3 linked regions of the Homo sapiens genome follow. The protein of the gene in region 2 interacts with the protein of the main gene of each other region in a pairwise test. Each region holds a gene or a part of one and is shown on either strand. Other genes may lie near its edges.

Region 1 (6,957 bases), about 24 Mb from region 2:
CTCCATCTTAAAGAAAAAACTTTTCTTTATAGAGATGAGGGTCTTGCTATGTTGCCCAGGCTGGTCTTGAACTCCTGGCCTCAAGTGATTCTCCCACCTCAGCTTCCCAAAGCATTGGGATAACAGGAGTAAGCCTCCATGCCCGGCCCTAAATCTTGCTTTTTGAATCATATCTTCTTTCTTTTTATTATTGGTAGCTAGAAGAAGCCAAGTAGCACCTTGAACTTTCTCTCTGGGTATGTCCTTAGATCATTTTATTCTTGGGAATACTATCTAGCTTCTATTTCCTATTTGGCTACAGGTGACAATGTTGCTAAACTTCCTGCCACTGCATAACAATGGTCTTCTTTCCTCCATCTTCCAGTAACAATTTCTTCACTTTCCTCTAAGTCCCCACTGTCAGCCTCTGCAAGGTCCTCCCAGCTCCTGGACACTGCCCCATCCCAAAGCCAATGTCACATGATTTAGGTTTTGTATCAGCAGCACCCACCCCACTTCCAGTACCAGATCCCGTTCTGCTTATCTATAGTTATATAACAAACCACATCAAACTTGGTGCAGTAAAAACACCCAGCATCATCTATTTTATTATATTTCATAGTCATGGGGCTTGACTGGGCTCAGGGAGGGGATTCTCAGTTTTGGTGTCTCCTGTGGTTGCAGTCCAATGGTGGCCGGGGCCAGAGCCATCTGGAAGGCTTCCTCACTCACTTGTAGGTGACCCGTGCAGGGGGTGGATGGGTCCTTCAGCTGGTGCTGCTGGCAGGAACACGCCTATCCTCTCCCGAGGCTGCCTGTGCCCCTCACAGCATGGTGGCTGGGTGTAAAGATCAAGCATCCCAAGATGTGTGAGAGAGAGAGAAGGAGTTGGGTTGCTGATCTGATCTGTGTGACTCTGTGTGTGACTTGGCCTCAGAAACCACACGATGTCAGTTCTGCTGCATTCTATGGATTACAAGCAAGTCGTGAAGGCCAGCCCATGTTTCAGGAAGAAACCCAATTAAACTCCCAAAGGGAGCAGCATCAGAGAACCTGCCAGCATGTTTCAGAGGCGCCAGAGTGGCCAGGCACGGTGGCTCACACCTGTAACCTCAGAGCTTTGGGAGGCTGAGGCAGGTGGATTGCTTGAGGTCAGAAGTTCTAGACCAGCCTGGGCAACATAGTGAGACCCTATCTATAATTTTTTTTAAATTAGCCAGGCATGGTGGCGTGTGCCTGTGCTCCCAACTACTTGGGAGGCCGAGGTGGGAGAACCTCTTAAGCCCAGGTGTTCAGAGGCTGCAGTGAGCTATGGTCACCCACTGCACTCCAGCCTGGGTGAAAGAGCGAGACCCTGTCTCAAAAGTAAAAAAACAAACAAAAAAGGCCGGGCGTGTAATCCCAGCACTTTGGGAGGCCGAGGCGGGCAGATCACAAGGTCAGGAGATCGAGACCATCCTGGCTAACATGGTGAAACCCCGTCTCTAATAAAAATACAAAAAAAAAAAATAGCTGGGCATGGTGGCAGGCGCCTGTAGTCCCAGCTACTCGGGAGGCTGAGGCAGGAGAATGGCGTGAACCCGGGAGGTGGAGCTTGCAGTGAGCTGAGATCATGCCACTGCACTCCAGCCTGGACGACAGAGCGAGACTCCGTCTCAAAAAAAAAAAAAAAAAAAAAAAAGGGAGGGGGGCAGGCCAGGCAGGCACGGTGGCTCATGCCTGTAATCCCAACACTTTGGGAGGCTAAGGCAGGCGGATTGCTTGAGCTCGGCAGTTTGAGACCAGCCTAGGCAACGTGGCAAAACCCCCCCAAAACAGAAACATTAGCTGAGCATGGTGGTGCACCTGTAGTCCCAGCTACTTGGGAGGCTGAGGCAGGAGGATCACTTGAGCTCAGGATGCCAAGGCTGCAGTGAGCCATGATCACACCACTGCACTCCAGCCTGGGTGACAGAGCAAGACCCTGTCTCAAAAAATAATGCAAAATAGAAAATAAACTTTTTGAAAAAGTGCCACAGTGGGCCATTTACCAAGGTGGACTGGTAAAGAGGCAGGGCACACGCAGAGGCAAATAGGTAGAAGAGAATGAGCACTAGAGATGGACAGGTGGGCAGTGGCCCATTTGTAAAAGTGGAGAACATAGGGTAAGAAAGGGATTTTGAGAAGACCTTGAGTTCCTTTCTGGCATGGTGACTGGGAGAACTTTATTGGTAGTGGAGATGGAGATGTGGAGCAGGCTCCAGAAACAAGAGCGTGGAGCAGAGAGAGAGGCCAGGCTGGAGGTGCACTTGTGAGTCACTGTCACAAAGATGGTGTCTGGAGCTCCAAGGCTGGAATAGGTATTGAGGGTGAGAATGGGAAAGGATGAAGGAATGGCCAGGGCTAGGAGGAAGAGGGCTCAGCAAATGTTGGGCTGGCTCTCCTGACCAATGACCCTGCCTCCCCCATCATAGCAGCACTCTGATTTTGGAGGATGGTCCAGATGCAGTTCTGTGAGGGAGGTCTGCTGAGGGAGGAGGGATCCATGGCCATCCAAAGGGCCATGGGAGGAGATGAAAAGTGTGGGGCTGTGGCAGCCATTCTACCACCAAGAGGTGGGTGGAGGAGGGGTTGACAGAGCCACTCATGGAGGTGGCAGCTCATCACTGAGCCTCCAGACTACCCCTGGGAAACCTATGTGGGAGCTCTTGTGACAGAAATTAAATCAGCAGGTTCGGTCACAGTGATGTCCACAGCACTTTCACTGATAGCAGAGTGGGGATGGCAGAGTCTTGCAGAGGGGCTGGCGGCGGGAGGAGCGCAGGAATACGCATTGCCCTGGGGAGGCGGCCAGGTTCTAACCGTCTCACACCTAGTCACTACACTTTACAGATTGGGAAAGCCAAGCCCAGAGGCTGAAGACGCCTATGGAGGTCACACGGCCAGAAATTGACAACGGAGTATGAGCCAGGCCGTCTGTTTCTCTGTGCTATGAGTCCCATACTGTATTTTCAAAGGTCAAGAGGAAAGGGTCTTAAGCTGAAGTGACGGTCCCGCTGCCAGGAGCCGCTTCACTGAGGGTGAAACAATGTAGCCAAGTGCGGGTCACCTGCGCTGTGGCAGAAGGGACCGAGGACGGTGTGGCCAGAGGACTGGCCTGGGCGGAGAGCGAGGAGGGGGAGCCCACAGCTTCTGGGGGGCAGTGACAGTGCGGGGAAGGGCGAGGTGCAGTGTTGGATGTTTTCGCGGGGATTCTGGGACCAGTGGGAAAGCTGGAGGACAGGCGGCTCTGAAGCACCGAGGAGGGGCCTCGGAAGGGGCGGGGAGGTCTCCTTGACACAGGTGAGGAGACGGAGAACTGGGGGCACCCGGCAGCCCAGGCTTCCTGCCGCGCTCTCACGCCCTCCAGGGCCATGAGACCCTGGCTCCGAGGTGGCGGGCAGGTTCGGGACCCGAGCGCGGCGGGATCGTGCGGTTGCCGGTGGTGCTGGGCCCCATGGAGGCTGCGGTCCAGGAGTTTCGGGTGGGCGGCTAGGCCGAGCTTCTGCAGGCGTGCTGAGCCGCCGCAGTAGGGCCCCAGAGGGGACGAGGAATTAGGCCCAGCCGAACGAGGGGGAGCCACCAGAGGCTGGGCCGGGAGGCACCGCCGCGCTCTGGGGAGCTGCCAGGGTCGGGGCGCCCTCCGAGCGGCTGCCAGGCCCCGCGGGCGGCGGCGAGGCGGCCCTCCGCCCCTTCCCCGCAGGTCGCCCTGCCAGCTTGAGCGGCGGGCGCGGGTGGGGCAGGAGGACGCGGGGCGGGGTGGGGGGCACAGGGGGCCCTCTCTGCAGCGCCCCCGGCCCCCGCGCGCGGAGGCAGGGCCGCCGCAGTCGAGGATTAGCGCGTTCGCGGCCGGCGCTGCGGGATTAACCCGCGTGGACTGGACGCCCGGCCCGGGGATTACTGCGCGCTCCCTCCCCGACGTATATATTCCCGCGGCGGCGGCGCCCCGGCCGGGCCGGGCATGGCGGCAGCGGCTGGGGGCGCGGCGAGCCGCCGGGGTGCCGGGCGGCCCTGCCCCTTCTCCATCGAGCACATCCTCTCCAGCCTGCCCGAGCGGAGCCTCCCGGCCCGGGCCGCCTGCCCACCGCAGCCCGCCGGTCGCCAGAGCCCCGCGAAGCCAGAGGAGCCCGGGGCGCCCGAGGCTGCGCCCTGCGCCTGCTGCTGCTGCTGCGGCCCCCGCGCGGCGCCCTGCGGGCCCCCAGAGGCGGCCGCCGGGCTGGGTGAGTGGGCGCGGAGCGGGGCGCGGGGCCCGGCGGAGCCCGGGGCGCGGCGCAGTGGGTGCCGAGCTTGGCCCCAGCCCCGCGCCTCACCGCGCCCTCGCTCCGCAGGCGCTCGTCTGGCGTGGCCGCTGAGGCTGGGACCGGCGGTGCCCTTGTCTCTGGGTGCGCCAGCCGGAGGTTCCGGGGCGCTCCCGGGCGCGGTCGGCCCGGGTTCGCAGCGGCGCACGAGGCGCCACCGCACCATCTTCAGCGAAGAGCAGCTGCAGGCGCTCGAGGCGCTTTTCGTGCAGAACCAGTATCCTGACGTGAGTACGCGCGAGCGCCTGGCCGGCCGCATCCGCCTTCGCGAGGAGCGCGTGGAGGTGAGTGCCCCGCCCAGCCTTTCCCCGGAGCGCGCGGGCCGCGGCTACACTGGACTGGGGTCCTGGCGGGCGGGCGCCCTTTGCAAAGACGGCCTCGGCCCAAGCCCCGCCCTGGCGCGCCGGAGGGAGGAGGTCCCTGGACGGCGCTGGGCGTCCGGGGGTATGAGGAGCGGGTGAGAGCAGGGAGGTGCCGCGGGAAAGGAACCGGAGGGCTACTTTTCTTTTCTTTTGTTTTACACTTTCCTCTGGTGACGAAAGAGGCCCGCGTTCACGTCCAGAATTTGGGAAATTCAGAAGAGCCCGCAACCCAAGAAGGGGCGTCCTGGTCGCCGCCAGCTGGAGGCTGGGGCGGGTACTAAGGGGGTTCCCATCTCGCGTCCAGACCCACCGAGTCTGTCCGCAGCGAATAAGGGCAGGTGGCGCGCAGCCGCGGCCCGGGTGTCGGCTCTACAGCGCCGTCCGCCCACATCCCTGTTGCGAAGCTCCCCTCTCGGTCCCTGTGGGACCCTCGGGAGCCGGTGGGACGCAGGACCTGGGGCTAGGGCTGAGCATTCCCCCCATCCCCAGGTCTGGTTCAAGAACCGCCGGGCCAAATGGCGACACCAGAAGCGCGCGTCGGCTTCCGCGAGGCTCCTGCCCGGCGTCAAGAAGTCCCCGAAGGGGAGCTGCTGATGACTCTAGGAGCTGCCCCTGGGCTCGGCCACCCTTTTTGGGATCTTTGGAGTTGGCGCTGAGAGAAGACAGGTCTACCCGAAAAGGAGCTGGGAGAGTACACCGGCCGCCTCCACCCGTCTCCACAGCCCTTGCCTCCTGCAGCTCGTGCTGCCGTGGCGCTGGGGACGGGCCCCCGGTGCTTGGTGTTCCACGGCAGTGGGAGTGGCGAGTCCCTTGGGGGTGGGCTGGGGCATAGAGCAGTTTCCTCAGCTCCCTACCCCCCGAGAGACACTAACTCCACCGCAGGAGGGGAACCACCCCGTATCAACACGGGACCCAGAATCCTACGCAGTGGAGCGTCTCTCCGCACCCTGGGACATGCTGGCCACCCTCTTCTCAATGTGGACATTGACCTAACTTGACCTGGCTCGTCCTCCCCCAGCGGGAGAGGGGATGGGGTTCGTGTCTGTGCAGTCCTGGCGTTGCAGGCTTCCCAGGCCCTGGGCTGGGTCTTGGTATCTGGACCTGTAGAATAAGAAGGTCGCAGGAGCGATTCCAGGAGCCCCTCCACAGTCCCTTCACCTTCGAGCCTCGCGCTGATACTGAGAAACTAGCAACTTCAAATACCACAGAAGCCGCCCAGAGTCTCAAGTCCACCTTGGCTCCACTCCCACACCCAACAAGGAGCTGTCCCTTCTTCTTCCTTCCCAGCGAGGGGGTATTTAGGGTACAGCTGTCTTTGAGAGGAGCACAGCTCAGCGATCCTCAGTCTCTGCACCAGGGTGCTCCCCAGCAGAGGGGACTGCTCCACGGATGGTGGCCTTGGACCCCTGGGGTCCAGCCCTGGCCTCTAGGCTACTGTGAACCTGCCCATGGGTGAGGGTCCCCTGCTTCCTCCTGGGGTTTTCATGCTGTGGGCTCGGACTCCCTCACAGCAATCTGTGCCATCCTAGGGTAGGGCAAGAGGAGGTTGGACTGGGGAGACCCCGCCCCTGCTGCCTGGGAAGATGCCTGCCCTCCCCTTCTTTATCCTGGCCCATGGCAAAAGGCACAGTGGAAAGAAGCCTTAGATTCCCCAAGTAGGCCCTACAGTGGGTCCAAAGCATCTCACATCCCCACCCCCAGCTGGCTTGAGCACCTCGTTCTGTCTCCTTACAGGCCCTGCAGGGAATGGGGCCATTCTACCTGCAAGAGATGAAGTCCATCTCTAAAAGCAGGACTGCAGAAGCCAGGGCTGCAGCTCCCCAGACACCCCAAGGCTGGCCAGCTTGGATAACACCAAGCAAGCATGGTGTCCCCAGTCAGAACTGCCCTGACACTGCTGGGTGTCCCTAGCATCCCCGCCTCCACCCCTAGCATGCACACAAAGCCCTTCTCCCTGAACCCTGGTCTTGCCCTTGGGGACTGAACAGACTACCTGTGGACATGCCCGTGTCCCAGTCAGCTCCCTTGCAGCTGGGGACACTCGCATCTCACAGGCTCCAGGCCCCTTGAGTTCCTTGGTTGAATGGCCATCTGTCATTGTTTTGGGAGCCCCGATCAGAGCTTGTGGAGCGCCACCTTCCAGGGCTCAGTGGCTGTGTTGCTCTCCTGAATTTGCTTCTTGAGCTCTAGCTGCTCCTTGGCAGGCTGACCCCCCACAGCAGGCTATTAACATAGGCATCCTTCACGCTCACACCCAGGCGCTCGCTTCTCATCTTCACCCTCTTCCCGGTTTATCTTTT
Region 2 (7,021 bases):
CGTGTTATCTTAATACAATTTCACACAGGTGAGCAGTGCTCACACCTTTATCATTTGCTTTCTAAGTCCTATTTCCCATCACCTAGGGATAAGCTATCATTACCAGTACTCCCTTCCAATCCTGAGTCACTACGTGTAGTCAAGCAACATCCCTTCACCCCAGGGTCAGGCTTTCTAGAATCCATCACATTAAACTCAGGCAGAGAATTACCAACCCAGAAGAGAGCAAGGCCTCTCTGCATGGCAAGGCTGCCCTCAAAACCCAGGGAGGATATGACCATCATCAGGCCCTTACCCCAACAAAAGGGCCAGGTGCCAACAGCAGCTTACAAAAGGTGGTGGGGAGAAAGACAGGCCCTGTAAGTGCCAGGATATGAGGGGAGTCCATGCAGGGCCAGGGCAGGAGGCCTCACCCACACCAATGACCTGCGACTACACCCGTGACCCCGAGTCACCAAGGAAAGGTCCAAAAAGTTCTGGAAGGATTTTTAAATAGAACTGGATAAAATCACTTTGGGCACTTTAAAGGTATAGTTTGCTGGCAAATTCACTTACGTAGACTGATAGGAGAGTGACTGAATGAGCACTGTGACCAGGCACACATGCTGGGCTCCTGGGGTCCATCACCTCATGCTGCCCCGCCAAAATCCTATGAGGAAGGGCTCTCAGTATCCTGGTGCAAAGGACTGCATGTATGGATCCCCTCAAAATTCATATGTTGAAATTCTACCCCTCAGTTTGATGGCATTAGGAAGTAGGGCCTTTGGAAGCTAATTAGGCAGGGCCCTCATGAATGGGACTAGTGTCCTTACAATTTTTTTTTTTTAGTTTTTGTTGAGATAGGGTCTCACTATGTTACCCAGGCTGGCCATGAACTCCTGGCATCAAGTGATCCTCCTGCCTCAGCCTCCAAAAGTGTTGAGATTACAGGCATAAGCCACTGCACTCAGCCACTCATGCCTTTATAAAAAGTACCTGAGAGCTCTCTCGCCTTCTTTCTGTCATGTGAAGCTATAAGAAGTCAGCAATCCGCAACATGAAAAAGGACCCTCCTCAGAACCCAACCATGCTGGTACCCTGATCTCAGACTTGCAGCCTACAGAACTGTAAGAAGGAAATTTCTGTTGTTTACAAGCCACCGCATCTTTGTTATAGCAGCCCCAACTGACTAAGACACTCAAGTTTTGGAGACATTGAAACATTTGGCCAAAAGCCGCACAGTCACCTAGTGATGGAGCTCGAACCCACACCCAAGGGCTGTATGACTCCAAAACCATGTTCCTAACCTCCAAAACCTTATTGCAAAATTACCTTTCTTCTGTAGGAACTAACAGTGAAAGTGACATATTAACCTCAAGGATCTGTAAGCATAAACCATATGGAAAGAGAAACAGCCAGGCACGGTGGCTCATGCCTGAAATCCCAGCACTTTGGGAGGCAGAGGCAGGCGGGCCGTTTGAGGTCAGGAGTTTGAGACCAGCCTGGCCAACATGGTAAAACCCCATCTCTACCAAAAATACAAAAATTAGCCCGGCATGATGGCGCATGCCTATAATCCCAGCTACTTGGGAGGCTGAGGCAGGAGACTCACTGGAACCTGGGAGGTGGAGGGTGCAGTGAGCCGAAATCGCACCATTGTACTCCAGCCTGGGCGACAAGAGCAAAATTCCGTCTCAAAAAAGAAAAAAGAAAGAGAAGCAGAACCCACACAGCTACTGCATTCTCAACCAAACACGTAAATGCAGGTTAAGAGAATGAGTCAAGGCTGAGGCCATTCCCACTCGAAAAGCCCTTCTCATTAGAGTGGAGCCACTGCTTCCTAGGAACACAGATGGCAATCCTTGAGACTCCCAGAGACAGAGGTGACCTTTGTGAAATTGAGTCACCTGAATCACCCCTCCCCCATCTGCATCCCTGACTTCTCAACTGACATCTTGCTTCTCTGAAGATCTTCATCCCGGTATTTTAAATACCCAGAAACTGCTCCCCAGTGAACTGTCCTCCAGGAGAATATAAGGCAGGTCATAACCTGGAGCCTTCCCTGCCCCTAGCAGCCCCTCTCACACACACCTCTTGTTCTTTTTTTTTTTTTTTTTGAGACAGTCTCGCTCTGTCACCCAGGCTGGAATGAAGTAGCACTATCCTGGCTCACTGCAATCTCTGCCCCCAGGTTCAAGCGATTCTCCTGCCTCAGCCTCCCGAGTACCTGGGTTCACAGTCACAAACCACCACGCCCAGCTAATTTTTGTACTTTTAGTAGAGACAGGGTTTTGCTATGTTGGCCAGGCTGGTCTCAAACTCCTGGCCTCAAGTGATCCGCCCACCTCAGCTTCCCAAAGTGTTGGGATTACAGGCGTGACCCCTCTCTCCCAGCCACTCCTTGTTCTTCAGAGCTCTGTAGCTCTGCCCAGAATGGTCCTTCACGTCAGCCCCACCTGGAGAGCACCTGTGGCTCTGGCACAATCCCTCCCAAGTCACTTCCCTGAAGGTCAGCTCTCTGTAGTGTCCTGAGGACAGTCAGACCCGCCCTCCTCTGTCGTGCAGTACTTTGTACACACTACTATCTGGTACCGCCACAATGAAAAGAGAAGTTTCCAGGCCTGCTGCCTATACTGAGCTGCCTTTACAGAGCAGCCATCATCTTTATCTCAGGATTCCAGAGCTGCAGGCAGAGCCAGGGGCACCAGGCATGCAGTGGCCAGGACCACTACCTCTGACTCACCCTGCCTGTTGCCTTCCACCCACAGATGCTCCCTCCACATGAGCCACTGAGATATCCTCCAAACACTCTCAGTCCAGGGAGTGAAATGAAAATAAAAAGCAGGTACTTCCACGGGCAGCTTAATGGAGTGCCCCAGCTGGCTGCAACTCTATCAATAGTCACATCACACATGACATAACAGGAAGACAGGTGGATTCTCCACACACACTCCACATTGAGTGATGCCTGCTGTGTGCAGTACTATCAGCTTCCATGTCTGAGTATTCAAAACAGCTTTCAGAAATACATCAGAAGTATTCTTTTAAAAAATAAAAATAAAAAACATCTTTATTATGATTATTTTCATCAGAAATAAGCCACCTAACATCTGTGAGGCTCTAAAATTCAGTGGTCTTCTTTTTTTTTTGAGACAGAGTCTCACTCTGTCGCCCAGGCTGGAGTGCAGTGGCACAATCTCGGCTCACTGCAACCTCCGCCTCCTGGGTTCAAGCCATTCGCCTGCCTCAGCCTCCCCAGTAGCTGGGATTACAGGCACGCACCACCATGACCAGCTAGTTTTTATATTTTTAGTAGAGATGGGGTTTCACCATATTGGCCAGGCTGGTCTCAAACTCCTGACCTTGTGATCTGCCCACCTCAGCTTCCCAAAGTGCTGGAATTACAGGCGTTAGCCACCACGCCCGGCCTAAGTTCAGTGTTCTTTTACATATATGAGCTCTTTATATAGCTCAGAATGTGTACTCTTTCAATAAACCAAAAAAATTAGTCCATAAAATGTTAGGAATCTAGCCAGAAGGCCACAAGCAGCCACTGTTGGACAGTCCTGGCCACTGGCACAATCCACACCCAACTTTCAAACCCACCCAGCGGCTCTGGGCCCAGGGAGGGGCCTCCTAGACTGCAGAAAGCATCTCATCTGTGAGGACATACTTGGATAGGACAAGTGAGACATTTGGAATTTTTACTTAACATTTATTTCACAACTTTCTCAAGTGCTAAGCAACTGAGAAGTAGTCATTTTAATGTACTCTTTCATCAATAAGCATTAAATAAGTCTGCTCAAAACACTCAAGCCCTACAAACTGTCCCTATGAAAAATGTGGCAAGAAAAAATAACAAAAACAAATAAGTAGCCTTTTCACATACAGAAAAGGTGTTTAGTGATCCAAATTCAGAGAGAAAAACAGTCCTTTCCGGCAGATGAACAAATAGTTTCCTCTACGAGTGACACATTCTGGGATATTTGAACTGCCAAACATAACTCATAATGACAACCACCAAGGAAGCAAAACCTAATGGAAAAGCCCCAGGATGGCAACCAGGAGCCCCAGTTCTGGTCCCAGGACGGCCTCTGGCTGTTTGCTCCATCAACGTGCTGACCAAGCCTGGCCCACTTTCTTCATCACAGGAAGGAATATCTATTGCCACCTGTACCACTCAGAAATGTTTTGAGGACAAAAGAATGAGAGGTGAAAGTGCTTTGGAATGTGCATCTTCTATAAATACAAGTCATCATTATTATTAGCTCAAAGATGACCAGGAAAATAGGATTACAGAATATCACAGGTGAGAGGGAGCTTAGAGATGGAATAATCCAGTTCTTAATCTGGGTCCACGCCTATGAAGCTGTCCCCCTTCGTGGGAAGGGGTCACAGTTGCTATCAGATTTGCAAAAGGTGAAGGTCCTCTAAGTCCTTCATTTTACAAATATGAAAACTGAGACCTGGAGTTCTGTGCTGATTGTCCCAGACCTCAGGGTTGGTCAGGGAAAGGCTGGACAAGAGCCCAAGGCTCCTAGTCTCCATCCACGCTCCTCCCCCTCTGTCATCTCATATTCTTGGGAGGAAAAATAATCATATAAATTTTATCTGGCCACAGAATATGTACTATAAACCACCACACATGCACTTTCCAAAGGTACAGCAAAATCTCTAGCCTTATTTATCATTTTTAAGGCTTCTTGCGAGGTCTTTGATAGTTGAGACATCATTTTATTTTTTCTATTTTTTTTTTTTTTTTTTTTTGAGACAGAGTCTTGCTCTGTCACCCAAGGCTGGAGTGCAGTGGCACAATCTCGGCTCACTGCAGCCTCTGCCTCCCGGGTTCTAGTGATTCTCCTGCCTCAGCCTCCCGAGTAGCTGAGATTATAGGCGCACGCCACCATACCCGACTAATTTTTGTATTTTCAGCAGAGATGGGGTTTCACCATGTTGGCCAGGCTGGTCTCGAACTCCTGACCTGAAGTGATCTGCTCCTTTACTTCCCATAGTGCTGGGATTACAGGTGTGAGCCACAGCGCCCAGCCCCATTTTATTATTTCTATATTCTCATCTCCGTCTAGTTCAGTGCCTAAAATCAAGAAACACGCAAATGATTTTTTTAGGATTGAAAATAGGCCAGGTGTGGTAGCTCACACCTGTAATCCTAGCACTTTGGGAACCCGAGATGGGAGGATCACTTGAGGCCAGGGGTTTGAGACCAGCCTGGCAAACATGGCGGAATCCCATCTCTGTTTAAAAATACATATATATATATATTTTTTTTTAATTGAAAATAAAAAAGACCGGCCAGGCACGGTGGCTCACGCCTGTAATCCCAGCACTTTGGGAGGCAGAGGCGGGCAGATCACGAAGGTCAGGAGATCAAGACCATCCTGGCTAACATAGTGAAACCCCGTCTCTACTAAAAATACAAAACATTAGCCAAGTGTGGCGGCGGGCGCCTGTAGTCCCAGCTACTTGGGAGGCTGAGGCAGGAGAATGGCATGAACTCGGGAGGCGCAGCCTGCAGTGAGCCAAGATCACACCACAGGGCACTTCCAGCCTGGGCAACAAAGCGAGACTCCGTCTCAACAACAACAACAACAAAAAAAGACAAGAAAGGAAAAGAAAAAAGACCTTATTCTAGGAAACAAGAAAGACTCTATGGTGCTTTAAGTTTTATTAAGCAAACAGATGAACATGCATTTATGGGAATAAGCACAATTCAATAGGTAACTTAAGGAAAGGTGGTTTTTATTTGTTTTATGTGTGCTTTTCATCAAAATGTCAAAACTTGTGCTCTTTGGTGGCCACTGTCCCTCAAGTAGTTACCTTTGGAACTGCAGAGATACCAAAAAATGATGTATTGTGCAGAATAATTTGAGAATTCTTTGAAGCCTGTCTCCAGTCCACAGACAGAGCATACTCATCTGAACACTAAAATTCTGCAGAAATTCCTACAAAACTATCCCAAGAACCACCACTGGGACGCATCTGGAGTCTGTCTGGGGCAGGGACGAATGATACTTTCTGGTATGTGAGGGATCAGTGCCCTGGCCATAAGGAAAGACTCTACCTGTGGAATGCAAACTGCCTTCGTAACTAAGGCATTGCTGCACTGCCCTCAGGTATGCAGCTACCATTCCAAACAACCTAACTGGAAAAAAACTAAGCCAGCACTATTGCTCACATGAATGTGGTCATTAATCGCATAATCTACAGGGCGGCCTCCACAAAGCTGCCATTACAATCTGATGGCAGATAAAGCAGGCCCGAGTCAGCTGGGAGGTTCACATGAAGGTGGCCAGAGAGCATCTGGTAAATGCCACTGCGAACTCTAAACACAAGGTGCCATCACTATTATTAAAGAAACTTTTCGATCTGTTTGATATTCCACAACATCCGGAATCATCCACTGATAACCCCTTCAGAATCAGTAAGCCTGAGCATGACGCCCTTAACACAGCACAGACTTTCAAGGTATAGAGAAGAAACAAAAGGCAAGGACATCTGCGAGGCCGAGGCGGGCAGATCACTGGAGGTCAGGAGTTCCAGATCAGCCTGGCCAACACTGTGAAACCCCATCTCTATTAAAAATACAAAAACTAACCAGGCAAGGTGGCAGGCGCCTGTAATCCCAGCACTTTGGGAAGCTGAGGTGGGCAGATCACCTGAGGTCAGGAGTTCCAGATCAGCCTGGCCAACATGGTAAAACCCCATCTCTATTAAAAATACAAAAACTAGCCAGGCAAGGTGGCAGGTGCCTGTAATCCCAGCACTTTGGGAGGCCAAGGCAGGTGGATCACAAGGTCAGGAAATCGAGACCATACTGGCCAACACGGTGAAATCCCGTCTCTACTATAAATACAAAAATTAGCCAGGCGTGGTGGTGGATGCCTGTAGTCCCAGTTACTCAGGAGGCTGAGGCAGGGGAATCACTTGAACCTGGGAGGCAGAGGTTACAGTGAGCTGAGATCGCACCACTGCCTCCAGCCCGGGCGACAGAGCGAGACTCTGTCTCAAAATAAATAAATACATA
Region 3 (8,011 bases), on a different chromosome or scaffold from region 2:
TCAGGAATTTGTGACCAGCCTGGCCAACACGGTGAAACCCCATCTCTACTAAAAATACAAAACTAGCCACGCATGGGGCGTATGCCTGTAGTCCCGGCTACTCAGGAAGCTGAGGCAGGAGAATCGCTTGAACCCGGGAGGCAGAGGTTGCAGTGAGCCGAGATAGCGCCACTGCACTCCAGCCTGGGCAACAGAGTGAGAGTCCGTCACACACACACACACACAATTCATTGAAGAACAAATGCATGCATTATCCACCTTTTTATCTGCCTCTTCCTTCCTAGGACTGCTGTTTACCTGGCTTTGTAACCCCTCCCCACTACAGGGCTCTAGTGGGTACACAGTCCACACCACCAGACCCTAGTCCCATACCCAGAGACCGTCCCTCACCTTACAACAGTCCCCATTCAACAAGGCCTCATCCTCCAAAAGGACTTCAGTCCTTTCCTTTCCTTTTCTGTAATAATCACTGCAGGACCCAGACACAGTGGGCTGCCTTGTGAAGCAGATTCTACGGATCCTGGCTGGCTGACAAGTGGTGAGTGGAGGTAAACGGGATGGGAGGTCTAAAAACTCCTTTATTTTTCCCCATTGCAACTGGAATAAATAGTCCGAACTCCCTATTGATTGTTATCCAGATGACAAAAACAAAACTATTTTTTTATGGAGACAGAGTCTCACTCTGTCGCCCAGGTTGGAATGCAGTGGCGCTTGAACCCAGGCACCTCCTGGATTCAAGTGTTTCTCCTGCCTCAGCCTCCCAAGTAGCTGGGACCATAGACATGCACCACCACGCCCAGCTAATTTTCGTATTTTTAGTAGAGATGGGGTTTTGCCATGTTGGCCAGGCTGGTCTCGAACTCTTGACCTCAGGTGATCTGCCCACCTTGGCCTCCCAAAGTGCAGGGATTACAGGTGTCAGCCACTGTGCCTGGCTGAACAAACAAAACTCTTTACTGAGATTCGTAGGCCCCATGTAATTGGGTTCCAGTCTCCCTTTATTATTATTATTATTTTTTGTTCAGACGGAATCTCGCTCTGTCGCCCAGGCTGGAGTGCAGTGGTGTGATCTCGGCTCACTGCAGCCTCCGCCTCCCAGGTTCCAGTGATTCTCCTGCCTCAGCCTCCCAAGTAGTTGGGATTATAGGTGTGCACCACTACACCCAGCTAATTTTTGTATTTTTGGTAGAGACTGGGTTTCACCATGTTGGCCAGGCTGGTATTGAACTCCTGACCTCGTGATTCACCTGCCTTGGCCTCCCAAAGTGCTGGGATTACAGGCGTGAGCCACCGCACCTGGCCCCAGCCTTCCTTTAAACTCAACTCTTTCCCTCCCTGGCTAGGAACTTTCTCTTCCCAGCCAGACTCCGCTTTTTACATCCTCTTTCCCACCTCAGGGCCTCTGAAGGTGCTGTCCTCTCCAAAGATGTTCTTCTCCACCTGGCTTCCTATAGCATGCAACCCCTATCCCTACAGCTTTTATTGCCATTTATTTTATTTTTTTCTTTTCTCAGATTGGTACAGGATGGTCTCACTATGTTGCCCAGGCTGGTCTCAAACTGCTGGACTCAAGTGATCCTCCCACTGGGAGGCAGCTGGGATTACCTACCCATGCTACCATGCCTGGCTTATACTTTTTTGCTTTTGTTTGAGACAGGGTCTAGCTCTGTCACCCAGGCTGGAGTGCAATGGCTTGATTCGGCTCACTGCAGCCTCAGCCTCCTAAGTAGCTGGGACTACAGGCTTGCATCATCACACCTAACTAATTTTTTAATTTTATTTTTAGTAGAGACGAGGTCTTACTACATTGTCCAGGTTGGTCTCGAACTCCTGAGCTCAAGCAATCCTCCTGCCTCAGCCTCCTAAAGTGCTGTGATTAGAGATGTGAGCCACTCCACCCAGTCCTTATTTTTTGCTATTTACATTCCCTCCCCTAAATCATGTACTCGAGAGCAGGGACTATGTCAGCACCCGGTTCCCTATCCAGTTATTGTAAGGATTCAATAAAAATTTGCTGAATTCATTAAAAAGAAAATAGGTCTTCCATCTCCACCCACTCCTCTACTAACCCTTTTCCCAAAAGTTCTCGATGGTTCCCACACCAAGTTACCCCAGTTCAGTTCTTCAGTCTCCTGCAGACATTCCTGAGTCCCATTCCCAGCCACTCACTCTCCATCATCTGCCCTGGAAACTTCCCACCCACAGGCCGGGCTCGGTGGCTCGCGCCTGTAATCCCAGCACTTAGGGAGGCCGAGACGGAATGAGTGCTTGAACCCAGGAGTTTAAGCAACTATAGCGAGACCCCTGTCTCTACAAAATATACAAAAAAATCAGCCGGGCGTGGTTGCACGTGCGCCTGTGGTCCCAGCTACTCGGGAGGCTGAGGCAGGAGAATCAACTGAGCCGGGGAGGTGGATGCTGCAGTGAGCCATGATCACGCCACTGCACTCCAGCCTGGGCGACAGAGCAAGACCGTGTCAAACAACAACAAAAAAACTTCCAGCCGCAGGAGTCCCATTAACGTACCCATTTAGTCATTCACTCGTCAAAAGTCCCGTACGTGCCCATTTCTCAGCCCTACTCCCTAAACCCCTAAACCCAACCTTCTCGCCCCAAGATGAGCTGCTGAAAATCCTTCACGCCACTGCTCGGCCCCATAAGGCCTATCCAGCCCGTTCCGTTTGAACCCCATACATCCCTTCGTCCTCGGGACCCCCCTCCAGCCCTCCTCAAGCGCCCCTCGTCAGTCTGGCCTCCACGCCCCGTCCCCTCAGCCCGCCAACCTCACTGCCACGACCCTGCGTGGCCCCTGCCGAGCCCGCGGGCAGCACCTGGCCTGTGCCTCGTCCAGGCTCTGGTCGGTGATGGCCATGATCTGCTGCAGGACGTCGCTCGTGTCGAGGCGCCGCGGGGCGGGGGGCGATGGCGCGGGGCGCGGCGGGGCGGCCATGAGCGGCAGGGCCGGGCGGGCGCTGTGAGGGTGCCGTCGAGCCTGGAGCACTACCACTGGCGCCGCAGCCAACCGCCGCTGCCTGAGCGCCGCGCCCGCTCTCGCTCGCGCCTAAGCCACGCCCACCGCCGCTATCGCCAGCCAACCCGTGTATTGCACCGCCTACAGACACGCCCCTTCATCTCCGTCAGCCAACCGGCGCCACGCACCGCCCCCGGGACTCGCCCCGAACTTCCCCCTCTCCGGGCTTGGACTGGGTTTGGGGTTGCCGAGGCAACGGCACTTCTCATAAGCGCCCTCCTTCCCCTTGAGAGAGGGCAGCGCTGGCTCCGCTCCAGCCAGAGGCCCCCATCCCTCACATCTCGCGCGGTGCACGCCTCCTTCAGCCCCACTCGCATCTCCTCAGAGTTCCTGCTCCTCCTCAGGGCCCCCTTCTCCTCAAAGCCCTCGGTCCTCAGAGACCCTCACTCCCCAGAGCACCCCAACTCTTCCTCCAAGCCACCCCCTCCTCCTCAGAACCCCACACCTCTTATAGCTTGATCGACAGCCCCCATTCATTTCCAGAAGCCCCAAGCCCCAGACCCCTGCTCAGTCCCCCTAATGCTCCCTGCATCCTCAGCCCCATCAGGTGGGCCACTGGGGCCCCTGGCTCTTCCTCTAGAGCTTTCCACGCCCCGTTCACCTGGCTAAGGCGGGGCGCAGGCGTGCGTGGTTGATGGCAACGAGGAGGTCAGAACGCAGCGCTTTTCTCCACTGCAGAAATCAATTCCAGTCACCTTTCAAGGTCCAGCTGAAGAGTGACCTCGCTTGTTTATTCATCTTCGCAGATTACAGTTCTGGGCATAGAAAATGCTACCACGTGGTTACCGAATGAAGGAAGGATGTTTACTGAGAGACTCCCCTGCAGTGTACCCCAAATCAGAGCGAATCCTCACATCTTTGTTTCTAGTCCTTAGGACACAGCATCGAAGGCTCCTAGTGCACAAGAAAAGGAACTGGGCGGTGGCTCATGCCTGTAATCCTAGCACTTTGGGCGGCAGAGGCGGGAGGATCACTTGAGCACGGGAGTTTGAGACCAGCTTGGGCAACATAGTGAGACCCCGTGGTGGTGCACGCCTGTGGTCCCAGCTATTTGGGACTTGAGAGGCTGAAGTGGGAGGATCACTTGGGCCTGGGAATTTGAGGCTGCAGTGAGCCATGATTGCACCACTGCACTGCAGCCTGGTTGACGGAGACCAGGTCTCAAAAAAAAAAAAAAAAAAAAAAAGTAATGGCCTGGACATGAATCTCTTCTCCAAAGTCACAGAACCTCCTGGAGCCTATTTGCTATGAGGACAGTCTCCAGATGTGGGCTCAGTAAAAGGTCCTCAGCCTGCTGGCTGGGAGCCCTTCCAGGGTGGGGCCCACGTTCTCTCCATTGCTGCTGGGGAGGAAATTCAAACACCATCTGGTATGGCTGGATTGGAGAGCGTCGGGAGACTCCAAAGGGGACGGCAGGGAGTGAAAAATGAAAGACATTGACCGAGTGTCTGGACAATAGGGAAAGCTCTCTGATGAAGGAAACCGACACTTGGCTCCAATGACAGAAAGTAATAGATTGCATGGGAGCCACGGAGACCAGTGCCTGTTCAAAAGGTCACCCACAAGCACAGCACTGCCCAGGAGGCCTGAACAGTAGTGGCCTTCAGGCTGGGTGCAGTGGCTGACACCTATGATCCCAACACTTTGGGAGTCTGAGGTGGGAGATTACTTGAGCCCAGGAGTTCAAGACCAGTCTGGGGAACATAGTGAGACCCCATCTCTACAAAAATAAAAATTAAAAAAATAGCTAAATTAGCTGGTCATGGTCCCAGCTACTTGGGAGGCTGAGGCGGGAGGATAAGTTGGGCTCAGGAGGTCGAGGCTACAGTGAGCTGTGTTTGTGCCACTGCACTCCAGCCTGGGTGAGAGAGCAAAACCTGCCCCCAACCCCAACAAAGTAGTATCCTTCAGAGAACTTGGAGGGGTGGGCACTGAAAGCTTCAGGGACCAGCAGAGACAAAAATTTGAAGCCACTTGGTGGAGACGGGAGATCGACAAGAGGAAATGGTCTCGAAGGAGACCCACGGGGTGCAGGTTAAAACCTGGAGGAGCTGATGTGAACAGCCAGCTCAGAGCGCCTGAGACAGAGTTGCCTTTTTTTTTTTTTTTTTTTTTTAGACAGAAATCTTACTCTGTTGCCCAGGCTGGAGTGTAGTGGCGTGACCTTGGCTCACTGCAACCTCCACCTCCTGGGTTCAAGCACTTCTCCTGCCTTAGCCTCCTCCTGAGTAGCTTACAGGCACCCACCACCACGCCCGGCTAATTTTTGCATTTTTAGTAGAAATGAGGTTTCACCATGTTGGCCAGGCTAGTTTCAAACTTCTGACCTCAGGTGATCTGCCTGCCTCGGCCGCCCAAAGTGCTGGGATTACAGGTATGAGCCACCTCACCCGTCCCACTGTTGCCATTTGGAGGTCATCAGGGGTCTCTACTGCATAGAAATTAGTTGGCAGCCTTGGCACTCAAAGTGCTCGGCCAGGGCCATTTAATATAGAAGGACCTGGGAGTTTTGGGTTCTTTGACAATGCATATTTCAGTGGTTTAAGAATTTGGCACAGGTGGCTGGGCATGGCGGCTCACATCTCTGAGTGACCTGGGTTCAAATTCTAGCTGTTATTCAGCATGGGATTCAAAAGTAGGGACATAACCCCACCTCCTCACTGGTGAGGTGGGAGCAGAGAATGACATCCTGGCACACACTGTGCCTTGGAGGGGGCCTCCCTGAGCATCTCAGAGGGGGCTCATGATGGATCTGGCACTCATGGGTTGGGTGCTGTGGGGTGAGGTAGGGAAAGCCCAGCTGAGCTTGGGACCAACCCTGGGCTTCGTGGGAATCTGAAGTCCCTTTCCTAGGGGCCTCTCTGGTCCCTCGGGGCCTGTATGTGCCATCTCCAAGCTGTGTTTACCATGGGCCAGATCACAACCTGTCTGAATCAGTGTTCTCACATAAAAATCAGAAAGACTGATCCCAGCACTTTGGGAGGCCAAAGCAGGCGGATCATGAGGTCAGGAGTTCAAGACCAGCCTGGCCAATATGGTGAAATCCCATCTCTATTAAAATACAAAAAATTAGCCAGACATGGTGGTGCATGCCTGTAGTCCCAGCTACTTGGGAGGCTGAGGCAGAAGAATCGCTTGAACCTGGAGGGGGCGGAGGTTGCAGTGAGCTGAGATCATGTGAGACTCTGTCTCAAAAAAAAAAAAAAAAAAAAAAGGCCAGGCATGGCGGCTCACGCCTATAGTCCCAGCACTTTGAGAGGCTGAGGCGGGCGGCTCACCTGAGGTCAGGAGTTCGAGACCAGCCTGGCCAACATGGTGAAACCCCATCTCTACTAAAAATAAAAAATTTAGCTGGGTGTGGTGGCATATCCCTGTAATCCCAGCTACCCGGGAGGCTGATGCAGGAGAATCACTTGAACCTGGGAGGCAGAGGTTGCAGTGAGCTGAGATCACGTCATTGCAGTCCAGCCTGGGAAACAGAGCAAGACTCCGTCTCAAAAAAAAAAAAAAAAAAAAGCCCAGCACAGTGGCTCATGCCTGTAATCCCAGCACTTTGAGAGGCCGAGGCGGGTGGATCACAAGGTCGGGAGTTCAAGATAAGCCTGGCCAAGATGGTGAAACCCCATCTCTAACAAAAATACAAAAATTAGCCGGGCACGGTGGCAGGTGCCTGTAATCGCAACTACTTGGGAGGCTGAGGCAGGAGAATCGCTTGAAACCCGGGGGCGGAGGTTGCAGCGAGCCGAGATTGCACCACTACACTCCAGCCTGGAGGACAGAGTGACACTCCATCACAAAAAAATAAAAAATTTAAAAAAAAAAGCACCTAAAGTGTTTACCAGTATGCCAGGCACATCAGAAGAGCTTGAGAAATGGTCATGCTCAAATCCTGCATCCCACTACCTGAACCCCACAACCTGTGGCTGGAAGTATGAATACAGGTGGTGGGGAATGGGATAGAAACGGCTGGGCACGTGACCTTGAACCATCAGGGCTCAAACAAAAGGGCAGTGGGGAGGGAGGGGGCTCATAGGGTCCAGACACTACTCTGAGCTGCAGAGAAAGACAGGGAGACAGGCAGTGAGATGGAGGCAGAGCAACAGATGGGGGAAACAAAGAACAGAAGCAGAGAGAAACAGATTCAAGACCCCAGTAAGAGAGAGGGGCCAGGCGTGGTGGCTCATGCCTATAATCCCAGCACTTTGGGAGGCCAAGGTGGGTAGGTGGATCGCTTGAGGTCAAGAGTTCGAGACCAGCCTGACTAACATGGTGGGACCCCATCTCTACTAAAAATATAAAGATTAGTCAGGCACGCGGTAGCTCACACCTGTAATCCCAGTACTTTGGGAAGCTGAGGTGGGTGGATCATTCAAGGTCAGGAGTTTGAGACGAGCCTGGCCAACATTGGTGAAACCTCATCTCTACTATAATACAAAAATTAGCCGAGTGTAGTGGCAGATGCCTATAACCCAGCTATTCGGGAAGCTGAGGCAGGAGAATCGCTTGAACCCAGGAGGCAGAAGTTGCAGTAACCTGAGATCAAGCCACTGCACTCCAGCCTGGGTGACAGAGCGAGACTCCCTCTCAAAGATAAACAAACAAATAAATAAATAATAAAAATAAAAATACAGAGATTAGCTGGACGTGGTGGCACGCGCCTGTAATCCCAGCTTCTCCTGAGGCACAAGAATCTGGAACCTGGGAGGTAGAAGTTGCAGCGAGCTGAGATTGTGCTACTGCTCTCCAGCCTGGGCTACAAAGTGAGACTCTGTCTAAAAAAAAAAAAAAAAAAAAAGAGAGAGATGGAATAACAGCCAGCCAGACTGAAGAAGAGCGAGCACAGGGCCAAGGAGATACCATGTTGAAAGATCCTTTCTGGACTTGGGCCAAGGTAGACAATTCCGGGACACAGGGACAGAAACACTGAATTGATAACAACAAATGTTTTGGAGACCTCAGAGTGTAAAGAAAGGTTTACTC

What was found. Proteins that work in one complex are often made in the same cells at the same time.
Region 1: the proteins of PACSIN2 (region 2) and GSC2 interact in binary tests that used the Homo sapiens proteins (3 or more experiments, as listed by UniProt).
Region 3: the proteins of PACSIN2 (region 2) and PBX4 interact in binary tests that used the Homo sapiens proteins (3 or more experiments, as listed by UniProt).

What each region holds. Positions count from the first base shown.
Region 1 is NC_000022.11:19,147,285-19,154,241, reverse strand, and holds the start of GSC2 (homeobox protein goosecoid-2), read left to right. Parts: upstream 1-3,949; 5' UTR 3,950-3,958; coding exon 3,959-4,217; intron 4,218-4,325; coding exon 4,326-4,579; intron 4,580-5,146; coding exon 5,147-5,251; 3' UTR 5,252-6,957. UniProt on the Homo sapiens protein: May have a role in development. May regulate its own transcription. May bind the bicoid consensus sequence TAATCC.
Region 2 is NC_000022.11:43,005,141-43,012,161, forward strand, and holds part of PACSIN2 (protein kinase C and casein kinase substrate in neurons protein 2), read right to left. Parts: intron 1-7,021.
Region 3 is NC_000019.10:19,615,680-19,623,690, forward strand, and holds the start of PBX4 (pre-B-cell leukemia transcription factor 4), read right to left. Parts: upstream 3,009-8,011; 5' UTR 2,951-3,008; coding exon 2,832-2,950; intron 1-2,831.